Linked DNA regions of Homo sapiens: region 2 is linked to region 1. A link means that fine-mapping ties the variant in region 1 to the plasma level of a protein whose gene starts in the linked region. Region 1 holds a variant in brackets. A gene starts in the other region. All regions are shown on their forward strands.

Region 1 (5,519 bases):
GCCAAGGTGGGTGGATTGCCTGAGGTCAGAAGTTCGAGACCAGCTTGGCCAACATGGTGAAACCCCATCTCTACTAAAAATACAAAAATTAGCTGGGCGCAGTAGCACGTGCCTGTAATCCCAGCTACTCAGGAGGCTGAGGCAGGAGAATCACTTGAAACCGGGAGACAGAGGTTGCAGTGAGCCGAGACCATGCCACTTCACTCCAGCCTGGGTGACAGAACAAGACTCTGTCTCAAAAAAAAAAAGAATTAGCTGGGCATGGAGGCACACACCTGTAGTCCCAGATACTCAGGGAGCTGAGCCGGGAGGATTGCTTGAGCCTGAAATGGGGAGGTCGCAGCGAGCCGAGATTGCGCCACTGCACTCCAGCCTCGGCAACAGAGCTGGGATCCTGTTAAAAAAAAAAAAATTGTGAGGATGAGTCAGAGGTATAAAGATGAGCCAGAAAGGCAAGCAGTGAAAATGTATAAAGAAATTTATAAGCTATTTTAAGTAAATTGGACTTGTACCTGATTGCTATGGCCAGCCAATTAAAGATTTTAATCAGTGAAGAGACATGATCAGATTTGTATTTTATCAAGATCACTCTGGCTGCAACATAAAGCAGGGTCTAAAATATTTTTATTTTTGTTCTTTGGACATAGTTGGTGGTCTGGTAAAGCCTACAGATCCCATCTTGAATAATTATTTAAATGCCTAAAATAAAATGTGTAGGAATACACACAAAAAATGAAATTAGCAAAATAATTTCATTCACAATAGCCTCAAAAAGAAGAAAATACTTGGGAATAAAAGAAGTATAAAATTCATACTCTTGGCTGGACATGGTTGTTCATGCCTGTAATCCCAGCAATTTGGGAGGCCAACTGGGAGGACCGATTGAGCCCAGGTGCTTGAGGCCAGCCTGGGCAACATAGCGGGACCTTGTCTCTACCAAAAAAACAAACAAAAAAATTAGTCAGGTATAGTGGTGTGCACCTGTAGTCCCAGCTACTCAGGAGGCTGAGGCAGGAGGATTGCCTAAGCCCAGGAGGTTAATGCTGCAGTGAGCCAAGATCGTGCCACTGCACTCCAGCCTAGGTGACAGAGTGAGACCTTGTCTCAAATAAATAAATAAAATAAAATTAGTACCCTGAAAATTACAAATTATTGTTGAAAGAAATTAAGGAATACCTAAATTAATGAAGAATAGACCATGTTCATGGATTGGAAGACAATGTTGTTAAAATGGAAATATTCCCCAAATCGATCTACATTCAAAACAATCATGATCAAAATCCTACTTGATCCTAAAATTCATGTAGAAATGCAAGGGATGAAGAATAAGTCACAATAATCCTGAAATAGAAGCACAAATTTAGAGAAGTTCCTGATTTCAAACTTTTACAAAGTTACAGTAATCAAGACATTGTGGTGCTTGGGATAAGAGTAGACACATAAATTAATGGAATAGAACTGAGACTCCAGAAATAAACTTTTCTTTTTATGGTCAATTGAATTTTAACAAGGGTGCCAAGACCATTCAACGGGGGAAAGAATAGTCTTTTCAACAAATGGTCCTGGAACAAGTAGATATCCACATGCAAAAGAAATGAAGTTTGACTCCTTCATAACACCATACACAGAAATTAACTCAAAATGAATCATAGACCTAAATGTAAGAGGTAAAACTAGAACACACAGAGAAGTTGTAGGAGAAAATGTCCATGACCTATGTTAGGGAAAGACATGACAATGGGCTGTGTGTTGTATCTCCTGCCTGTAATCCCAGTGCATTGGGAGGCCAAAGCAGGATGATTGCTTGATGCCAGGAGTTTGAGACTAGCTTTAGCTACATGGTGAGCTTGTGTCTACAAATTTTTTTTTTAATTAGCCTTGTGTGGTGGTGCATGACTGTAGACCTAGCTACTTGGGAGGCTGAGGCAGGAGGATCACAGTAGCCCAGGAGTCTGGAGTTACAGTGATCTATGATTGTGCCACTGCACTCTAGCCTGGGTGGCAGAGCAAGACATTGTCTCATAAAAAAGAAAAAAAATTAAAATTTAAAAAGGAGAGGCATGACACCAAAAGCACAAACAATGAAAGCAAAATATATTGGACTTCATCAAAATAAAAAACGTTTGTGCTTCAAAGAACACAATAAAGAAAGTAAAAATGCACGGTGTATTAGTCAGCTGGACCTGCCATAACAAAACGTCACAGACTGGATGGCCTAAATAACAGAAAGTTATTTCCTCACAGTTCTGGAAGCTGGAATACCAAGACCAAGGTACCAGCAGGTGTGTTTTCCTCTGAGGCCTTTCTCCTTGGCTTGCAGATGGCCACCTTCTCTCTGTGTCCTCACATGGCCTTTCCTCTGTGCCAGTGCATTCCTGGTGTTTCTTGTGTGTCCTAATCTCCTCTACTTTTTTTCTTTTTTTTTTTT[T/TG]GAAACGGGGTCTCCCTCTTTCGCCCAGGCTGGAGTGAAGCGGCGCACTGCTCACTGCAACCGCTGCTCCGCCAGTTCAAGCAATTCTGCCTCAGCTTCCTGAGTAGCTGGGATTACAGGCGCCCACCAACACACCCAGCTAATTTTTGTGTTTTTAGTAGAGATGGGGTTTCACCATGTTGGCCAGTTGGTCTTGAACTCCTCCCAAAGTGCTGGGATTACAGGCGTGAGCCACCATGACCGGGCCTCCTCTTCTTATAAAGACACCCTACTGGCTTCATTTTAACTTAATTACCTCCTTAAAAGTATCTCCTAATACAGTCACATTTGTACTGGGGTTAGGGTTTCCTTCATTTCCACCAAACGAAGATGTGTAAGTTAAATATGGTATATCCATGCAATGGAATATTAGACCATACAAAGGAATGAAATATTGATACATGCCAAAGCATAGATGAACCTTGAAAATATTATGCTAAGTAAAAGAAGCCAGATACGAAAGATCATATATTGTATCATATTCTATAATTCAGTTTATATAAAATATCTATAGAGACAGAGTAGATTAGTGGTTGCCTCAGTCTGAGGGAGGGGGTGAAGCTGAGAAGAAATGGGAGGTGACTGCTAATGCATACAGGGTTTCTTTGGGAGTGATGAAAAATAATGTTTAATTGTCATAATGATTGTACAACTCTGTGAATATACGAAACATTAAACTATATACTTTAAATAGGGAATTATATGATAAGTCAATTTTTTTTTTTTTTTTTTTTTTGAGACGGAGTCTCGCTCTGTCGCCCAGGCTGGAGTGCAGTGGTGCGATCTTGGCTCACTGCAAGTTCTGCCTCCCGGGTTCACGCCATTGTCCTGCCTCAGCCTCCCAAGTAGCTGGGACTACAGAGGCACGCCACCACGCACAGCTAATTTTTTTGTATTTTTAGTAGAGACGAGGTTTCACTGTGTTAGCCAGGATGGTCTTGATCTCCTGACCTCGTGATCTGCCCGCCTCGGCCTCCCAAAGTGCTGGGATTACAGGCATGAGCCACCGCGTCCAGCCATGATATGTCAATTGTATCTCAATAAAGCTATTAAAAATACATAGGATTACAAACAAATCCAATTATTTTAAAATACAGTTTTCAAAAAAGAAGTTTTTTTTTTGAGATGGAGTCTCACTCTGTTGCCCTGGCTGGAGTGCAATGGCGCGATCTGGGCTCACTGCAACCTCTGCCTCCAAGCAATTCTCCTGCCTCAGCCTCCCGAGTAGCTGGGATTATAGGTGCCAGCCACCAGGCCTGGCTAATTTTTTTAATATTTTTTTTTTAGTAGAGATGGGGTTTCACCATGTTGGCCAAGCTGGTCTCGAACTCCTGACCTCAGTTGATCTGCCCACCTCAGCCTCCCAAAGTGCTGGGATTATAGACATGAGCCACTGCGCCAAGCCTAAAATATTTTAAAAGCATAAGATAGTATTGAGCCAGGCGTGGTGGCTCATGGGATTACATGCCTGTAATCCCAGCACTTTGGGAGGCTGAGGCGGGTGGATCACCTGAGGTCAGGAGTTCGAGACCAGCCTGGCCAACGTGGTGAAACCCCATCTGTACTAAAAATACAAAATATTAGCTGGACGTTGTGGTGGGCGCTTGTAATCCCAGCTACTAGGGAGGCTGAGCCAGGAGAATCGCTTGAACCTGGGAGGTGGAGGTTGCAATGAGCCAAGATCGCGTCATTGCACTCCAGCCTGGGCAACAAGAGCGAAACTCTGTCCCAAAAAAAAAAAAAAAGATAATATTATATGTGCTTCTTTATACATAAGAAGATCTAGATCTAGCAGTAGGTCTTATCAATAACTACCATATTTCAGAGAACCAATGAATATAAATGATAATTTGAGATATTTGCAACAACTGCAACATGATATAAAATATTTACAATTTCTTTCTTTTTTTTGAGATGGAGTCGTACTCTCACCCAGGCTGGAGTGCAGTGGCTTGATCTTGGCTCACTACAGCCTCTGCCTCCACCTCCCAGATTCAAACAATTATCCTGCCTCAGCTCCCCAAGTAGGGTGGGGTGCTACAGGCACCTGCCACCACACCCAGCTAATTTTTGTATTTTTAGTGGAGATGTGGTTTCACCATGTTGGCCAGGCTTGTCTTGAACTCCTGACCTCAAGTGATCCGCCTGCCTCGGCCTCCCACAGTGCTGGGATTACAGGTGTGAGCCACTGTGCCCAGACTTGAAATATTTATAATTTCTATTGTTAGTAAAGTTACAGGTAGTGCTAATATTATTGTGGCTTATTGCTTACATTCATAAAAAGGAAATACTAAGTTTTAGTTATAGATTAGTGAAAATAAATATATATTTTTTCTCAACAAAGTTCATGAGCCCTCTGAATTCTACCTACATACTTTGGTGTGGGGGGGGGGGGTCTTCACACTCCATGTAATAAACCCTGAATTAAAGAAGAAACCAGATAGAAGGTTATTATAGAAGCCCAAGCCAGCATATATGTGGGCTAGTGTGAAGACAGCGGGGATAGGGAAAAGTGGGGAGCATGTAGCTGTATTTTGGGAGCCAAGTAAGTAGAGTTTAGTGATTGAATGGATGTGGATGGTGAGGCAGATGGAGGGAAAGATGATGTCTGGGCTCCTGCCATGTATCTGAGTGGACTTCCATCAAAACAGGAAGCATGGAAAGAGAAGCAGCTTCTGGGAAGTGAGACTAGGTGAAGAAAAAGAGATCTGTTTGGAATATGCTTATTACAGGCAGAGCTGTGGAACAAGATAACTGAATATATGGTTCTGGAGCTCAGAAGAAAAGATGAACTAGAGATACGGATTTGGGAGACATCAACATTAACCACGCTTGAATGCAGTGGCACAGAGAGAAGGAGAAATATAGAGAAAGAAGATGGCCAAAGCAGGAGCTAGAGGGTCAGAAACGTTCAAGGGAAGAGAAGATTGACTAGAAGGCAGAATAGATGTTGGAGATGGAGCAGAATCAGAGAAGAAGGAGGAAAGCCAGGAGAGTTGATTCCTAGCACCAGACAGATGCAGGGCTCACCTACAAAATTATACAGTTGTTT
Region 2 (3,539 bases), not on the chromosome of region 1:
AGGGTAGAGAAGAGGAAGTGGAGGGACTCCAGATACTTCCCTAGGGAGCCCAGAATTGGGGCGGGGTGGGGCCGGGGGCTTTGTGTTCCTTTTTTCCAGGTGGGAGAGCTTCCCTGAGTGGGAAGGGACGGGCTCAGTGAGGGGACAAGACAGTTGATCCTGGGGGAGAGGAGGGAAGACAAATGGAGGACCTGCTGCCTTGGCTGGCAAATGGCCAGGGCCCCGTGGAAGTCCCCTTCTGGTGGCTTCTATTCCTCAGTGAAAGAGGAAGCGAGTGCCTGGGCCTGGGTGCGCTGAGAAGGAGGTTTCAGGAGAAAGTGGGGTGAAGCAGTCATCCGCCCAGAGAGAGTCCCCTGGGGAAATGCGGCAGGGCTGACCCCTGGCCAGGGTCCCACATCCATCTGAAAGCCATCTCCTTTCTACCCGCAGTCCTTCACAGACGCACATCTTGTCACCTGACTCCCTCTCAAAGAGTTCAAGGCTTCCCACAGGCACCTGTTGACCTTTCTATTCTCCCCTCACCCTCACCCCACCCTCAAAGGCTCTTTCACTTCCTCAGCGGGTGCCAGGCCTGGACACTTCCCCTAGACTCTGCCCAGTCCTCTGCCTCTAGCCCCACCCACACCCTGCAGCCCGCCCAAGGTCTCCCAGACCTTCCAGCTCCATCCACATCAAAGGGACCTTTGAACGATCAGAAGTGTGTTCCAGCCCCCGGGGGAGACGCCACGGATGCCACAGCTTCAGCTGGCTGGCTCTGGGGTCCAGACCCTACCCCCAGAGCAAGAACCCCTCATTCACAAGACTGAGCCCATCAGACATCCTGGCACAAAGCCCAGGCTTCCGGGCTCAAATCTCAGCTGTCACTCACACTATGCTCAAGCCTCCCCATCTCTCTGCAAAAAGCCTGCTTCCTCATCTGCAAACTGGAAGCAATCATGGCATTGAGGAGGCGTCAGTGAGATGGAGCACACGCAAACGCATGTCCCCCAGCCTTGGCCCACAGCGGCAGCCACACTGTAGTCTATCCTTTTCACATGGGTGTACAGCAGGCCTGACCCATGAGGACCAAGGCCAGGGAAGAGGCAACAGCACCACAGTGCTCATGGGCCAAACTCCCAGGCCACGCAAGTCCCATCTCCAGGGGAAATCCAGGCTCCTGGACCCTGTGCTGTGACTGGAGAGGGGATAGCAGAGTCCCTTCCAAATGCTGTGGGGTGGGCCTGGGGCTGGTTTGCAGCTGTCCCTTCTCCCGCCTTCTCTCCCAAAGCAGGGTGCAGCAGCCTCGTTGATAGGGAGGGCCTTAGTTTCCCCTTCCTCTTTGCTAAGAGCCTCCCTACCCTACTCCTGCCAAAAGCCTAAGATAGAAACCCACCAGGCTGGAGGTAGTGACCAGGTTAGGCCATGGGCTGTAGCCAACTAGCCTCACCCAATATTCCAAGCCCAGGACAGGCTTTCATCTGTGCTGAGAAGCAGTTTACTTCTGTATCCTCAAATACAGCCTGGGGACTCAGTGATTTTGCATTTCTGTTTCTATCCCAATGGCTGAGGTCACAAGCTTTGGGGGAGAGAGGGCACCTGGCAGCCACTTGTCACTGGGATTCAGTCCTAGTCCTGCCTGTCACCCAAAAGCCCCAGAATGACCCAGCTTGGGTCACCTCAGCAGAGGGCAAAGGCCCGCGCTCCTCGGCCTTAGCACCCCAGCCCAGGCTGACCTGGCCTTGAATCACAGGCCCCTGGAACCGCGGGCTGAGCTGCCTGGGCCTATAAACAGGCAGCCGGGATGGGCTTTCCTGGCCCACAGTCAAAGGGCGGCCACTCACCCGCCATAGCGCTGGTGCTGGCGTGGGCCCAGCAGGAGCCGCAGTATTGGGGGATGTGCTGGTTCCGGGTGATGCTGGCATAGTTGACACCATCCACATTGCGCCAGTCCCAGCTCTTGGGCAGATCCGCTGGGGACAGGTACTCATGAGGCCGGGGGTATGTGCTGAGAAGAGATCATCCCCACCCAGATCGGTGCTGGGGCTCCCGGGGGCCGTGGGCCCAGGAAGCCCTCGGTAGGGCCCTCCCGCCTTTCCCAACACCTGAGGGCATGGGAGTGGGGCCACAATCACCAGAGGTGAGCCAGGTGTGGGCCCACCTCACACTAGGAGGCTCCAGCGCTCTCAGAATGTGAAGGAGGCAGGGCACCCCCGAAAGGAGGGAACCGGGTTGCTCCCCCAGCCATGCCGCGCCGTAAGGGCCACCCCCAGAGGCCGAGGAGGTGGGGCTGGCCTGGCTTTCTGGCCAGGTGGGGCTTGTCCAACCCCACAAACATCAGGGCTCACCCTGGATGTGGAAGAGAAGGAGCGACCCCCAAAACGAAGCGGCTGGATCTGACCTTCCAAGGCCTGTTGGCGACGCAGGGCCCCCAGGAGGCAGAGCGCGCGCCTGGCCCGGGCGATGGGCCTCCCGTCCCCCCAGGGCTGCCTCCCCGCCGGTGCCCACCTGCGCCCCAGCGGAGCCAGCCCGTCCCCCCGCAGAGGCCGGTAGCAGGTCTGTCCCCGGCGGAAGTAGAGGCCGCCCTGCGCCGCGCCCGCCAGCAGCACGAGCAGCAGAAGCGGCCGCCACCCTGGCCCGCGCCTCGCCATGGCCCCGCGCCGGCTCCTGGGTCCCGCTCCGGATCCCGCTCCGAGTCCCAGATCCCGCGCCGGCTCCCGCTCTGGATCCCGCCCCGGCCTCGGCCTCGGCCCAGCACCCGGCCGACCCCGCACTTTGGGCCCCTGCCCCGCCCGGCCCTTAAGGCTGCGGCGGCCAGGCCGGGACACTCCCCCGGGGCGGGGCTGTCCCATCGCTGCTCCTGCCCCGCCCGGTGACCCCTGCCCTCCCCGCCCGGCTCCGCGCCCCGCTCCCTCCCTGGCTCCGGGGCACCTGAACTCGCGGGCCAGGCGCGAGGTCGCCGGGCAGACCCCAGCCTGACCCCGCCGCCGGCCGCCGCCCTGAGCGCGGGACTGTCCGGCTGGACTCATTTGCCGGGGTTCCTGGCTTCGGGGTGGGGGGCCGCAGGCTCATGGGCCCCCTTGGCCCTGCATTCCTGGGGCCCTGAGCCCTGGGGAGAGGCCCCCAGCCTCACATCTGGGCCCAGGCCTCCCCTAGGAAGGGATCCTGGGATGCGGCCACCGCCCCCAAAGAAGGGTCCCCGCGCCTGGCTTTCTAAACCCCTTTTCCCAAAGGCCCAGGCCCTTTCGGGGGGACGGTTCCCTTTTGCAGAGAAGGAAGGAGGGATCCTTCTAGAAAATGCCCCAAAGGAAGATTCCACTTGGCGCAGGCATCAGGAGTTATCCAATGTGACTTCCAAAGACGCCTTGAAAAGGTTTTCTGCTAACGAAACTCTTCTTAGTCAAATGAGGAACCAAAAGCAGAAGTGGCCCCCCAGGACGTGGTTTTGTAACTGGGGGAGGGCTTCTCGCTCCCTGCGGCCCCTCTGTTTGTCATGGCCCTTGGGCCCACACCATGGCCTTCTTCTCTGGTAAGAACAGGGCCCGGCATTCTGGGCTGCGACC

Alleles and levels. Positions count from the first base shown, and alleles are read on the strand shown. Strength reflects both the effect of a copy and how common the allele is.
As copies of TG replace T in region 1, the plasma level of the protein whose gene starts at base 2,753 in region 2 goes up (weak association).

The links. A credible set is the group of variants that fine-mapping cannot tell apart. PIP is the chance, under the fine-mapping model, that this variant and not a neighbour inherited with it causes the effect. The UK Biobank Pharma Proteomics Project read protein levels with antibody pairs (Olink). The fine-mapping took linkage between variants from a reference panel, not from the people measured, so its PIPs are less certain.
Region 2: it holds the start of CTSZ, and the variant in region 1 is the best candidate, but not a certain one, in a credible set for the plasma level of the CTSZ protein (UK Biobank, PIP 0.85).

Annotation. Positions count from the first base shown.
Region 1 is chr13:41,111,280-41,116,798 of GRCh38, forward strand. No RefSeq gene overlaps it. Among named protein-coding and RNA genes, the nearest start is that of MIR3168, 13 kb to the left of the region's middle. The variant T/TG (reference allele first, on the strand shown) is at 2,429.
Region 2 is chr20:59,004,502-59,008,040 of GRCh38, forward strand. It overlaps CTSZ (cathepsin Z), which reads right to left and starts at 2,753. Exons shown (of 6, transcript NM_001336.4): 1 at 2,485-2,753; 2 at 1,821-1,984. The coding sequence starts at 2,627. RefSeq lists enhancers at 187-236, 247-306, 547-856, 2,005-2,816, 3,497-3,539 and a silencer at 2,437-3,036.